3 linked regions of the Homo sapiens genome follow. The protein of the gene in region 2 purifies or fractionates together with the protein of the main gene of each other region. This does not show direct contact. Each region holds a gene or a part of one and is shown on either strand. Other genes may lie near its edges.

Region 1 (3,647 bases), on a different chromosome or scaffold from region 2:
GGTGTGCTCATTAAAGCACATTCAAAAAGACACAACTGCTGGGGCCACTGCCATCTGGATTTTTTTTTTTTTTTTGAGACGGAGTCTCGCTCTGTCGCCCAGGCTGGAGTGCAGTGGCGTGATCTCAGCTCACTGCAACCTCCACCTCCTGGGTTCAAGCAATTATCCTGCCTCAGCCTCCCGAGTAGCTGGGATTACAGGCGCCTGCCACCACACCTGGCTAGTTTATATATATATTTTTTATTTTTTTAAATTTTCTTTTTGAGACGGAGTCTCACTCTGTTGCCCAGCTGGAGTGCAGTGGTGCGATCTCAGCTCAATGTAGCCTCCACCTCCCAGTAGCTGGCATTATAGGCACATGCCACCAGGCCTGGCTAATTTTTGTATTTTGTTTTTTTTTTTTGAGATAGAGTTTCGCTTTTGTTGCCCAGGCTGGAGTGCAATGGCATGATCTCAGCTCACTGCAACCTCCGCCTCCTGGATTCAAGTGATTCTCCTGCCTCAGCCTCCCAAGTAGCTGGGATTACAGGCATGCGCCACCACGCCCGGCTAATTTTGCATTTTTAGTAGAGACAGGATTTCTCCATGTTGGTCAGGCTCGTCTCGAACTCCCGACCGCAGGTCATCTGCCCGTCTCGGTCTCCCAAAGTGCTGGATTACAGGCGTGAGCCACCTCGTCCAGCCTAATTTTTGTATTTTTAATAGAGATGGGGTCTCACCATGTTGGTCAGGCTGGTCTCAAACTCCTGGCTTCAAGTGATCCACCCACCTCGCCCTCCCAAAGTGCTGGGATTACAGGTGTGAGCCACCACGCCTGGCCTAATTTTTAAATTTTTTGTAGAGACAAAAATTTAAATTTTTATATTTAAATAAAAATTTGAATTTAAAAATTTAAATTTGGAAATTTAAATTTTTATATTTAAATACAAATTTCCAATTTCAAATTTTTTGTAGGGTCTTGCTATGTTGCCCAGGCTGGTCTCGAACTCCTGGCCTCAAGTGATCCTCTTGCCTTGGCCTCCCAAAGTAGCTAGGATTACAGGTGTGAACCGCTGCACTCGGCTCTGGACTTTTCTTACACATTTATTTACACAGGGATGGATGGAGCTGTCGTGGGGTCCTGGGTGGGGCTGCCCTGAGCATGCCTCCGGGGCAGGGTGGGCACTCACGTGGTGATCTTGAGGACGTCCTTCATGCTGGTCAGCGGGTCCGAGTTGTCAGGGCAGCGCAGGAGGCAGGGTGCGAAGATAATGGCCAGCGCCCCAGGTGACATGCGGTTGACATCCTCGAGCAGGGCCACCCTGCACAGCCACTGGCAGTTAGAGGATGGCTAGGGCCGAGGGAGGGAGGTACCAGGGAGCCCCGAGACTGAACTTCTGAGCCCTGGGGTGGCTGTTGGGAAAGCAGTGCCACAGCCCAGCACTGGGAGATGCTTCCGCAGCACAGAGAGGTACCTCAAGGGACCCGGGCGGCCCAGCAGCCTGGCCCCCTCCCAGAACCCCCAACAGTGGTCTGCATCCTGGTTCGAAACCACCACAGAACGCCAGCTCGGGTCCTCCTGGGAAATGCTGCCTCGCGGGTTCCCAATGCGACCCTAACCCCACAGAGGGCAGGTGGGGAGGCACTTGCTTGACAAGGTGGAAGATGAGTCTCTCCAGGGAGTTGTGGTTGGCTTCTGGAAGGTGCTCCAGGACGGCATAGATGGCAGCCAGCTGCTCCTGCTTCTCCGGCAGCTCTGCAGGCAGTGGGGTTTGAGGACGTCAGCTCCCAAGGGTCCCCAAGGTGCCTGTTGTCCCCACCAACACGACCTGAGATGCACAGGTGCCATCCACCCTGTGGTGCCCAGGCAAGAATGGATGGCTACAGAGGTGTCCTGGCCCCACCCCAAACTGGGGACCCGGTTTGGCTGGGCCGACTGCTTTGGGCCTCAGTTTCTCAGTTTGTGAACTGGGTGGTCCTGCCTCCTGGGCTGGTCACAGCGAACGCTGTATCCTGGCTGTGGCCACCTGCTGCCACCCGCACCGCCATGGGGCTCACCGACGGCTCGGAGGAAGTCGCCGTACTGTGCGAAGGTCATGAGGGGCTCGGGCAGCTCCCGCAGCCACTGCTTCAGCACCCCTGTGATGGCGTGGATGGGGAAGTTCTCCAGCTTGACTGCTGCGGGGTCTGTGGGGTGGGTGGGGTGGGTCTGGTGAGCGGCGCACTGGCAGGACGGCTGTGCCTGGGGCCTGGCACTGCACCCACCTGCCCACAGCGCCCACCTGTCTGCAGCGCCTGCCGGAGCTCCCGAGTGCGGTTGGCAGCACCCGACTTGCGGTAGAGGCCCTCGGTGTACAGGCCGTGCATCTCCACGTGTTCCAGGAGCTTCTCCAGCACGATGGGCACCGAGGCCTTGTCGCTGGTCAGGCTGTCTACGCACACGCCGAAGTGGCCAGGCTCAACGCCTGGCTCGCCCTGCAGTGCCGGGGTTGGGGGTCAGGTCTGGGCCTGGCTGTCTTCCTCTCCAGCTGTCTCTGGGGGCCTCTGCCTCCTGGTCCCGCACAAGGCCCTCAGGGCTTCCTCTGCTGTTCTGTCCCTCCCTGTCTCCTTCTGCGTGGTTGTTGGGGGTGTGGGGCTGCAGAAGTCAAGGCCAGCATGGCAGCCACTGGGCAGGGGCTTCCTTTGTAGGCCACCCAAGGCATGGGTGGTCCTTCGTGGGGAGAGAGCTATAACCTAGCCCCCACAGCCACCTCACAGAAGTAGACCCTGACTCTTGCTGCACCCCCAGCACCCAGGACCCCAACCTTATGCACAGAGTTGGGGGGCCTCCCTCTGCATGGCTCAGGACTCTCTCAGGAGCAAGGATGAGCAGGGCTGGGGGAGCTGAGACACACACACAGGCCTGGGCCCTGCCTGAGGGCCTCAAGGAGTTTGTACAGAACCGGGGACAATGGTGTGTTCTGCAGAACCAGAGGCCACAGCCGCCCCCTACTGGCTGCTCAATGCTTCGCTTGGCCCTCACATCAAGCACCACCTCCTGGTGCACCTGGCCGTGAGTGGAGTGTCATTGTAGAAAGTTCCAGGCCTCGTACACTCACCTTCCTCCCGTAGGTGTAGGAGCAGTGGCTCTGAATCTTGTGCACGCACTTCTTGTGGCAGGTCATCTTGCACACTAGGAGGTCCACAGGGTGGGAGTCACAGAGGGTGCTGGGGACCCCAGATTCCTGCAGCCACCCACCCAGCTGGCCGGGGGCCGCCAATTGCCTTCTTTTTTTTTTTTTTTTGAGATGGAGTCTCACTCTTGTTCTCAGGCTAGAGCGCAATGGCGTGATCTCGGCTCACTGCAACCTCCGCCTCCCGGGTTCAAGTGATTCTCCTGCCTCGGCCTCCCGAGTAGCTGGGATTACAGGTGTGCGCCACCACGCCTGGCTAATTTTGTATTTTTAGTAGCGACAGGGTTTCTCCATGCTGGTCAGGCTGGTCTCGAACTACCGACCTCAGGTGATCTGCCCACCTCGGCCTCCCAAAGTGTTGGGATTAGAGGCGTAAGCCACTGCACCTGGCCTGGATTGCCTTCTTTTTGGTTTCTCTTTTTCTTTTTGAGACAGGGTCTCACTCTGTCACCCAGGCTAGAGTGCAGTGGCACTATCATAGCTCACTGGAGCCTT
Region 2 (4,096 bases):
AGGGCAGATATCAAGAATGCAAGTAGAGAAATTCTTAACTTATTTTTCAGAGAGAGGACAATGAATTTGAGAATTTGTATTGGAGAAAAGAGGGAGAGAAGTTAGGTGGAGGAACTCCTAGATAAGGCTTCAATCAGTGAATTCATCTGCAGAGCAGAAGTTTCTGCGGAACTCAAACTGCCTGGGGGCATTCCTTGAAAAGAAGAATTCTGCACTTTTTGGTGGGAACCTGCCGGTGGAACATCCTGTTTAGAAATGAGGACATCCAAGGAACACTGCAATGTGCAGAGACTAGAAGGAAAAAACAGTCAAGTAGCCATTTCTCCTGGGGAGTCTCTAGTAACTTGATTTTGTGCTTCTTCTTGTTTTTTGAGACAAGAGTCTCACTCTGTCGCCCAGGCTGGAGTGCAATGGTACGATCTCGGCTCACTGCAACCTCCACCTCCCGAGTTCAAGCAATTCTCCTGTCTCAGCCTCCCGAGTAGCTGGGACTACAGGTGCAAGTCACCACACCTGGCTAATTTTTGTAATTTTTAAATTATTATTTATTTTTATTTTTTTGAGGCGGAGTCTCGCTCTGTCGCCCAGGCTGGAGTGCAGTGGCGCCATCTCGGCTCACTGCAAGCTCTGCCTCCCGGGTTCACGCCATCCTCCTGCCTCAGCCTCCCGAGTAGCCGGGACTACAGGCGCCCAGCACCACGTCCGGCTAGTTTTTTGTATTTTTCTTTTTTAGTAGAGACGGGGTTTCACCGTGTTAGCCAGGATGGTCTCGATCTCCTGACCTCGTGATCCGCCCGCCTCGGCCTCCCAAAGTGCTGGGATTACAGGCGGAGCCACCGCGCCCGGCCAATTTTTGTAGTTTTAGTACAGACGGGGTTTCACCATACTGGTCAGGCTGGTCTCGAACTCCTGACCTCAGGTGATCCACACACCTCGGCCTCCGAAAGTGCTAGGATTACAGTCGTGAACCACCGCGCTTGGCCGCAACTTGATTTTTAAATTGCTCTCTGAGTGTAGATTCCTTGTTTGTTTGGCAAGGGTTCTTGCCGCTGCCGCTACAGCTTGAAGCCAAACATTTAATGAAAGAGAGCGGGAGGGGCCGAATAGAAGAATGATGGGCGTGGCCAACCCCGAGGTGGCTGGAGGCCGCGCCCCCTTCCCAGAGTGCACCGCAGCCGCTGCATTCAGGAACCGCTTTAGCTTCGCCCCCGGCCGGCCGGGCGGGGAAGACTGGTGTGGTCTGGCCATGGATGGGCTCCAGGCCAGTGCAGGGCCGTTGAGGCGCGGGCGGCCGAAGCGCCGGCGCAAGCCCCAGCCACACAGCGGGTCGGTCCTGGCCCTGCCCTTGAGGTCCAGGAAGATACGAAAGCAGCTGCGAAGTGTTGTATCCCGCATGGCAGCGCTGAGGACGCAGACGCTGCCTAGCGAGAACTCGGAGGAATCGAGGGTGGAGTCGACGGCCGACGACCTGGGGGACGCGCTACCCGGTGGGGCGGCGGTGGCGGCCGTCCCGGACGCAGCCCGGCGAGAGCCATACGGCCACCTGGGGCCCGCAGAGCTGCTGGAGGCCTCGCCCGCCGCGCGCTCCCTGCAGACCCCGTCGGCGCGCCTGGTGCCCGCTTCCGCGCCGCCCGCGCGCCTGGTGGAGGTGCCCGCCGCGCCGGTCCGGGTGGTGGAGACCTCGGCCCTGCTGTGCACCGCGCAACACTTAGCGGCCGTCCAGTCGTCCGGGGCCCCTGCGACGGCGTCGGGGCCGCAGGTGGATAACACGGGTGGGGAGCCGGCCTGGGACTCCCCGCTGCGGCGCGTCTTGGCCGAGCTGAACCGCATCCCCAGCAGCCGGCGGCGAGCGGCCCGCCTCTTTGAGTGGCTCATCGCGCCCATGCCGCCAGATCACTTTTACCGGCGCCTATGGGAGCGCGAGGCGGTGCTGGTGCGGCGGCAGGACCACACCTACTACCAGGGACTTTTCTCTACCGCTGACCTGGATTCGATGCTGCGCAACGAGGAGGTGCAGTTCGGCCAGCATTTGGACGCCGCTCGCTACATCAACGGACGACGCGAGACCCTGAACCCACCCGGCCGCGCGCTGCCCGCCGCCGCGTGGTCCCTGTACCAGGCCGGCTGCTCCCTGCGTCTCCTCTGTCCGCAGGCTTTCTCTACTACTGTGTGGCAGTTTTTGGCTGTGCTTCAAGAGCAGTTTGGAAGCATGGCAGGCTCCAACGTTTACCTCACGCCCCCTAACTCGCAGGGCTTTGCCCCCCACTACGACGACATCGAGGCCTTCGTGCTGCAGCTGGAAGGTAGGAAACTCTGGCGTGTATACCGACCCCGAGTCCCAACCGAGGAACTGGCTCTGACATCCAGCCCCAACTTCAGTCAGGACGACCTCGGTGAGCCGGTGCTGCAGACCGTGCTGGAACCTGGAGATTTGCTGTATTTTCCTCGGGGCTTCATTCACCAAGCTGAATGCCAGGATGGAGTCCACTCTCTGCACCTCACCTTGTCCACGTACCAGCGCAATACCTGGGGTGACTTCTTAGAGGCCATACTGCCTCTGGCAGTGCAGGCTGCAATGGAAGAAAATGTGGAGTTTCGGAGGGGTCTGCCCCGAGACTTCATGGATTACATGGGGGCCCAGCATTCAGATTCTAAGGATCCGCGAAGAACCGCTTTCATGGAGAAGGTGCGGGTCTTGGTTGCCCGCCTGGGACACTTTGCTCCTGTTGATGCTGTGGCCGACCAGCGAGCCAAAGACTTCATTCACGATTCTCTGCCCCCTGTTTTGACTGATAGGGAGAGGGCACTAAGTGTTTACGGGCTTCCAATTCGCTGGGAGGCTGGAGAACCTGTAAACGTGGGGGCCCAGTTGACAACAGAAACAGAAGTCCATATGCTTCAGGATGGGATAGCTCGGCTGGTGGGTGAGGGGGGCCATTTGTTTCTCTATTACACAGTGGAAAACTCCCGTGTGTATCATCTGGAAGAACCCAAGTGCTTGGAAATATACCCCCAGCAAGCTGATGCCATGGAACTGTTGCTTGGTTCTTATCCAGAGTTTGTGAGAGTGGGGGACCTGCCCTGTGACAGTGTGGAGGACCAGCTGTCCTTGGCAACCACGTTGTATGATAAGGGGCTGCTGCTCACTAAGATGCCTCTAGCCCTAAATTAGTTTCTTGTTGATTGCTGGAAACAAGGCAGTAGTGATTCTCCGCTGCCACTGCTACCTTTTTTTTTTTTTTTTCCTTAAACTCACGTTCTTACCTTGATAAGCATCAGTGTGCTCACATTTACCTTTATCACTGCTTCAGTGTCACAAACCTCGGAAGGTCTTCTAGGAAGAACCATCTCATCTAGGTACAAAAGGAAAAGGAGAAGTTGGAGGTGGAAAAAAAACCCTTGATCCGTGATCATTTCAGAGCACCAACTTCATCACCTTCAGGCTTCAGTGTACTGGGTAACACTGACCATGTCGTTCTGCTTGAGACAGATATTAGATTTTTTTTGGAATTTGGATCTTTCATCTGAGTTCTTTTTCATGGGCGGGTCGGGGTCAGTATCCTGTTTGTTATTGTTAAATTTGTATGAACCTTAGAAAAGTTATTAAAGTGCCAAAGAATGTTTCCCTTTCCTAAGGCTAGATTATTATGTGGGATGGTTCGAAGAAATGCAGGAGCGGGAGGAAGATAGGGAAAATCTATAATGGCTGAAGTGAAAAGCAACCTGGGGTGGTTGTAGCATGTAAAAGGAGCATGTTAATCAACCTCTTAAGGAAGAGACTCTCAGGCTGGGTGCGGTACTCATGCCTGTAATCCTAGCACTTTAGGAGGCCGAGGCGGGTGGATCACCTGAGGTCAGCAGTTTGAGACCAGCCTGGCCAACATGGCAAAACCCCATCTCTAGTGAGAATACAAAAATTAGCCAGGCATAGTGGTGCGTGCCTGTAATCCCAGCTACTAGGGGGGCTGAGGCAGGAGGATCACTTGAACCTGGGAGGTGGAGGTTGCAGTGAGCTGAGATCATGCCACTGCATTCCAGCCTGGGCAACAGAGCGAGACTCCGTCTCAAAAACAAAAACAAAAACAAAAAAGAATCT
Region 3 (3,647 bases), on a different chromosome or scaffold from region 2:
CATCTGATACCAACCACTTTCCCTGCTTCAGGATGGGACTCCTGGGCCCCCCTTCAGTTCACTCTAATGCCTCCTTCCCTACATTCCATCAGGCCTAATATTTCACCAATGTCTTTCTTTCATGTTGGCCTCACACAGTGTGTGGGTCCCTGTACCCCCTCTGCCTGTCCATCTCCTACACCAGGAACTTGCCGTCTCAGCACAGCTGATATTGGAATCTGGATGATTATTTGTCATGATGGGTTGTCCTGAGCGTTAGAGAACGCTTAGCAGCGTCTCCTGTCCTCCCTGACAACAAAAACTGTCCCCAGACACTGCCATGTGTCCCCGACGGGCAAACTCTCCTCTACTTGGAAGCCCTGACCTAGAGCAGCCCCTCGGGTCCTCTCGAGTCCAGCTGCACCGTGCAGCCCCCATCCCAGCTCCCCTTCCCTGCACCAATCACGAGGGTCCCACTCACCCATTTCTTGGGTCTTCTGTTATTTCGTAGCAGGTCCTCCAGGTCTTTGCAGCTCTGCACACCGTTCATCATGACTAAGACCTGGAGCTCCTGGGGCATGGAGATCATGAACTGCTCCATCACCAGCATGTCCAGGATCTGCTCTTTGGTGTGGAGGTCGGGCCTCAGCCACAGATGGCACAGCTCAGTGAGTTTCCTCAGAGCCTGGATGGGGTCCGACTCCTTCGGGCAGCTGAACATCCTGAAGTTCACGTGAGAAATCTCAGGGTCCACGTCGTGATTTCCAAGTTGAGTTTCTGAGGATGCCATAGACCGTGGCAGCTCCAACCCAGGTCTGTTGCAGGATTCTCCTAGACTCCATGAGGATGTGCAATTTGCAGCCATATCTAGTGGAGAATTTTTTAATCAGTCTCTGAGAAAGCTCTTCCAGTAGCTGGTATCTAATTGATACCTATCTACACAGGCTTCCTCTGGTTTTCCTCAGTAATAGATTCACTGTTCATTCAGAAGTCTGGGGGGGAAAAGTATGAGCCTCATTAGTTTAAGTTACTACTCCATCCATCCCTCCCTTCGAAATCCCTCATCCTGGATGCCACTTCTTCAGCAGCATCGAATTCAGCACAGTGGAAATCTTCCAGTGTCTATACCTGACTACATACTCTGGTTTAAAATCTTAATGACCCCTGGATTCTGATCTCTAGGAAATCACTGTGCAGAGGCTGAATCAGTTTTCCTGTCAATTGGAACAACATTGTTCTTGACTATAAATTAAATAAGATAGTTAGGTGAAGCTCTGAAAATGTGATGCAACAATAAAGTAAGCCCTTTATGTTTCCCCATCAGGACAAGATCCAAGGCAAAGCCCTTAGTCATAATTATGCAAAAGGATAGAGAAAAAGAGTTAGAATGTAATATTTTCCCCAACACATATTCTTGTTAACTCCAGAACATTTACTTGCTCCAGGGAAGGGACAGCATTAAAGGATCCTATGAGGATTAAGCACCTACACAGATATTTTGTTATTTTGGTAAAATGTACATTCATAAATTTCATCATTTTTTACTCTCTTCAAGTTCACGATTTTATGGGACTAAGACATGCACCATGTTGTACAACCATTACCACTGTTTACTTCCAGAATTATCTCATCAACCCAAAAGCAACCCCATCCCCATCAGTGATCACCCCCTGCCCACCCACCCCAGCCCCTAGCAATCACTAATCTACCTTCTGTCTCTAAGGGTTTCTGTATTCCTAATCTCATCTCAGAAAATGGATTTAAAGTCTAGTGCTCTTTGATATTTTAAAGAAGTGGGTTGATACAATAATAAGATTTTTAAAAATTAATTCCTAAACCTAGCTTCATTAGGCAGGAGCCACTGAGTGATACTCTCCAGGCATCAATTATCGTCCAAGTTCAACAGCTATGAGAACACAGCCCTGCTTTCCTAGACACAGGTGGGGGAAGCAACCTGAAGGTCTGCAGAGGGGAGAAAAAACTGGCAGAAGGGTCTTGGGAAAAGTCACTGGTAGCCTGGAGGGCGAGTGCCCCACACTTCCTGGAAGGACTTTGAGCAAGTGCAGAACAGAGAGACAGCCAGGGAGACAATCGGCAGAGGCGGGAGACAACCCAGAGGAGGAGACAATATTTACACACCACACATCTCACGGGGCTCCTGTGCAAAACATAAGCAACTCAAACTCCTCCAGAGCGAGAAAACACATAACCCACTAGAAGGGCTTAAGGCGCCTGTGTGGACATCTCAGATGAAGACATGTGAATGGCCAGCAGGTCTAGGAAAAGGTGCTCATTATCACTCATCATCAGGGACATGCAAATCCAAACCACAAGGCACCCCTCACGCCTGCTAGAGTGGCTGTTCCCAAAAAGACACATGGAACGAGTGTTGGTGAGGATTTGGGGGAAAGGGGTCCTCTGCGCCCTGTGCTGGGATGTAAATTAGAGCAGCCGATATGGGAGACAGTATAGAAGCTCCTCAGAAAATTGAAAGTCCAACAACTGCATGATCCGGCAATCCCGCTCCGGGGCAGGTACACAGAGGAAAGGAAATCAGGACGTGGACTCCAAAACAGTGAAACTCTGGAGGGATAGAGGGAGGGAGGGTTGAAAAACTACCTATTGGGTACTATCCTCATATCCTGGGTGATGGGTAGAGTCATACCTCACACCTCAGCATCACTCAATATACTCATGCAACAAATCTGCACAGGTACCCACTGAATCTAAAACACAAGTTCAAATTACAAAAAAAAATTTAAAAAGAAGTAAATAACATAAATAATAATTAAAAACCCAGTGGAACTCATAGTAGTAGTGAGTAGAATAGTTACCAGGGCTGGGGTAGGGGTTGGGAAGATATAGGTCAAAGAGTACAAATTTCAATTGAAGAAATCAATTCAAAAGAGCAATTGTCCAACATGGTGACTTCAGTTCATAACAATGTATTGTATACTTGGAAACTGCTTAAAAAAAATTAGATTTCAAGTATTCTCAAAACCAAAAATGGTTAGTACATGAGGTAGGGCATATGAATATTAGCTCAATTTAGCCATTTAACAATGTTTGTAATACTACAAAGCATATTATGCTATATGCCATAAATATATACAATTTTTAGTTTTCAATTAGAAGCAAATTAATTTTTATTGAAAAAGCACACAGATATGATAGAGAAAAGGGAGCCTGAAATTCTGGAATTAAAAGTGGTTTTGCCAGAGGGCGCCTGCTGCTGCTCAGGAGGCAGAGGCGGAGGTGGGAGGATCACTTGAGCCCAAGTGTTTGATAACAGCCTGGGCAACATAGTGAGATCCTGTCTCTAAAAAAGAAAGTGGTTTCATGTTCCTAGAAATCACTTTGTATTTGATCTTAGTTCATTCCCCGTTAAAGTAAGAAACAAGACACAGGAAAAAATAAAGGCAGACACAGGAGTTAGTATTCAATTCTGGGAGTATATACCACACGGGTCACCCAGGTAGGGACACTTAGCTCAGATTCTCATTGGCCTAGTAGGTTGATGCTCATTCATCAATGATTTGATTTCACCCTGTGCAAAGGGAAAATCCAGCAATGCTTTTTAAAAAGGGTGTGTGGCAGGCAAAGTGGCTCAGGCCTGTAATTCTAACAGGTTGGAAGACCGACATGGGAACATGCTAGAGCCCAGGAGT

What was found.
Region 1: the proteins of RIOX1 (region 2) and MYO9B purify together in Homo sapiens (affinity purification with mass spectrometry; one large-scale study listed by BioGRID and IntAct). This does not show direct contact.
Region 3: the proteins of RIOX1 (region 2) and ZSCAN5A purify together in Homo sapiens (co-immunoprecipitation; one large-scale study listed by IntAct). This does not show direct contact.

What each region holds. Positions count from the first base shown.
Region 1 is NC_000019.10:17,204,767-17,208,413, reverse strand, and holds part of MYO9B (unconventional myosin-IXb), read right to left. Parts: intron 3,152-3,647; coding exon 3,078-3,151; intron 2,455-3,077; coding exon 2,262-2,454; intron 2,167-2,261; coding exon 2,038-2,166; intron 1,736-2,037; coding exon 1,630-1,735; intron 1,302-1,629; coding exon 1,170-1,301; intron 1-1,169. UniProt on the Homo sapiens protein: Myosins are actin-based motor molecules with ATPase activity. Unconventional myosins serve in intracellular movements. Binds actin with high affinity both in the absence and presence of ATP and its mechanochemical activity is inhibited by calcium ions.
Region 2 is NC_000014.9:73,489,772-73,493,867, forward strand, and holds RIOX1 (ribosomal oxygenase 1), read left to right. Parts: upstream 1-1,161; 5' UTR 1,162-1,246; coding exon 1,247-3,172; 3' UTR 3,173-3,294; coding exon of another isoform or gene 3,295-3,353; 3' UTR 3,354-3,623; downstream 3,624-4,096. Other genes in the region: HEATR4 (HEAT repeat-containing protein 4), read right to left, coding at 3,295-3,353. UniProt on the Homo sapiens protein: Oxygenase that can act as both a histone lysine demethylase and a ribosomal histidine hydroxylase. Specifically demethylates 'Lys-4' (H3K4me) and 'Lys-36' (H3K36me) of histone H3, thereby playing a central role in histone code.
Region 3 is NC_000019.10:56,224,203-56,227,849, forward strand, and holds part of ZSCAN5A (zinc finger and SCAN domain-containing protein 5A), read right to left. Parts: intron 972-3,647; 5' UTR 845-971; coding exon 461-844; intron 1-460.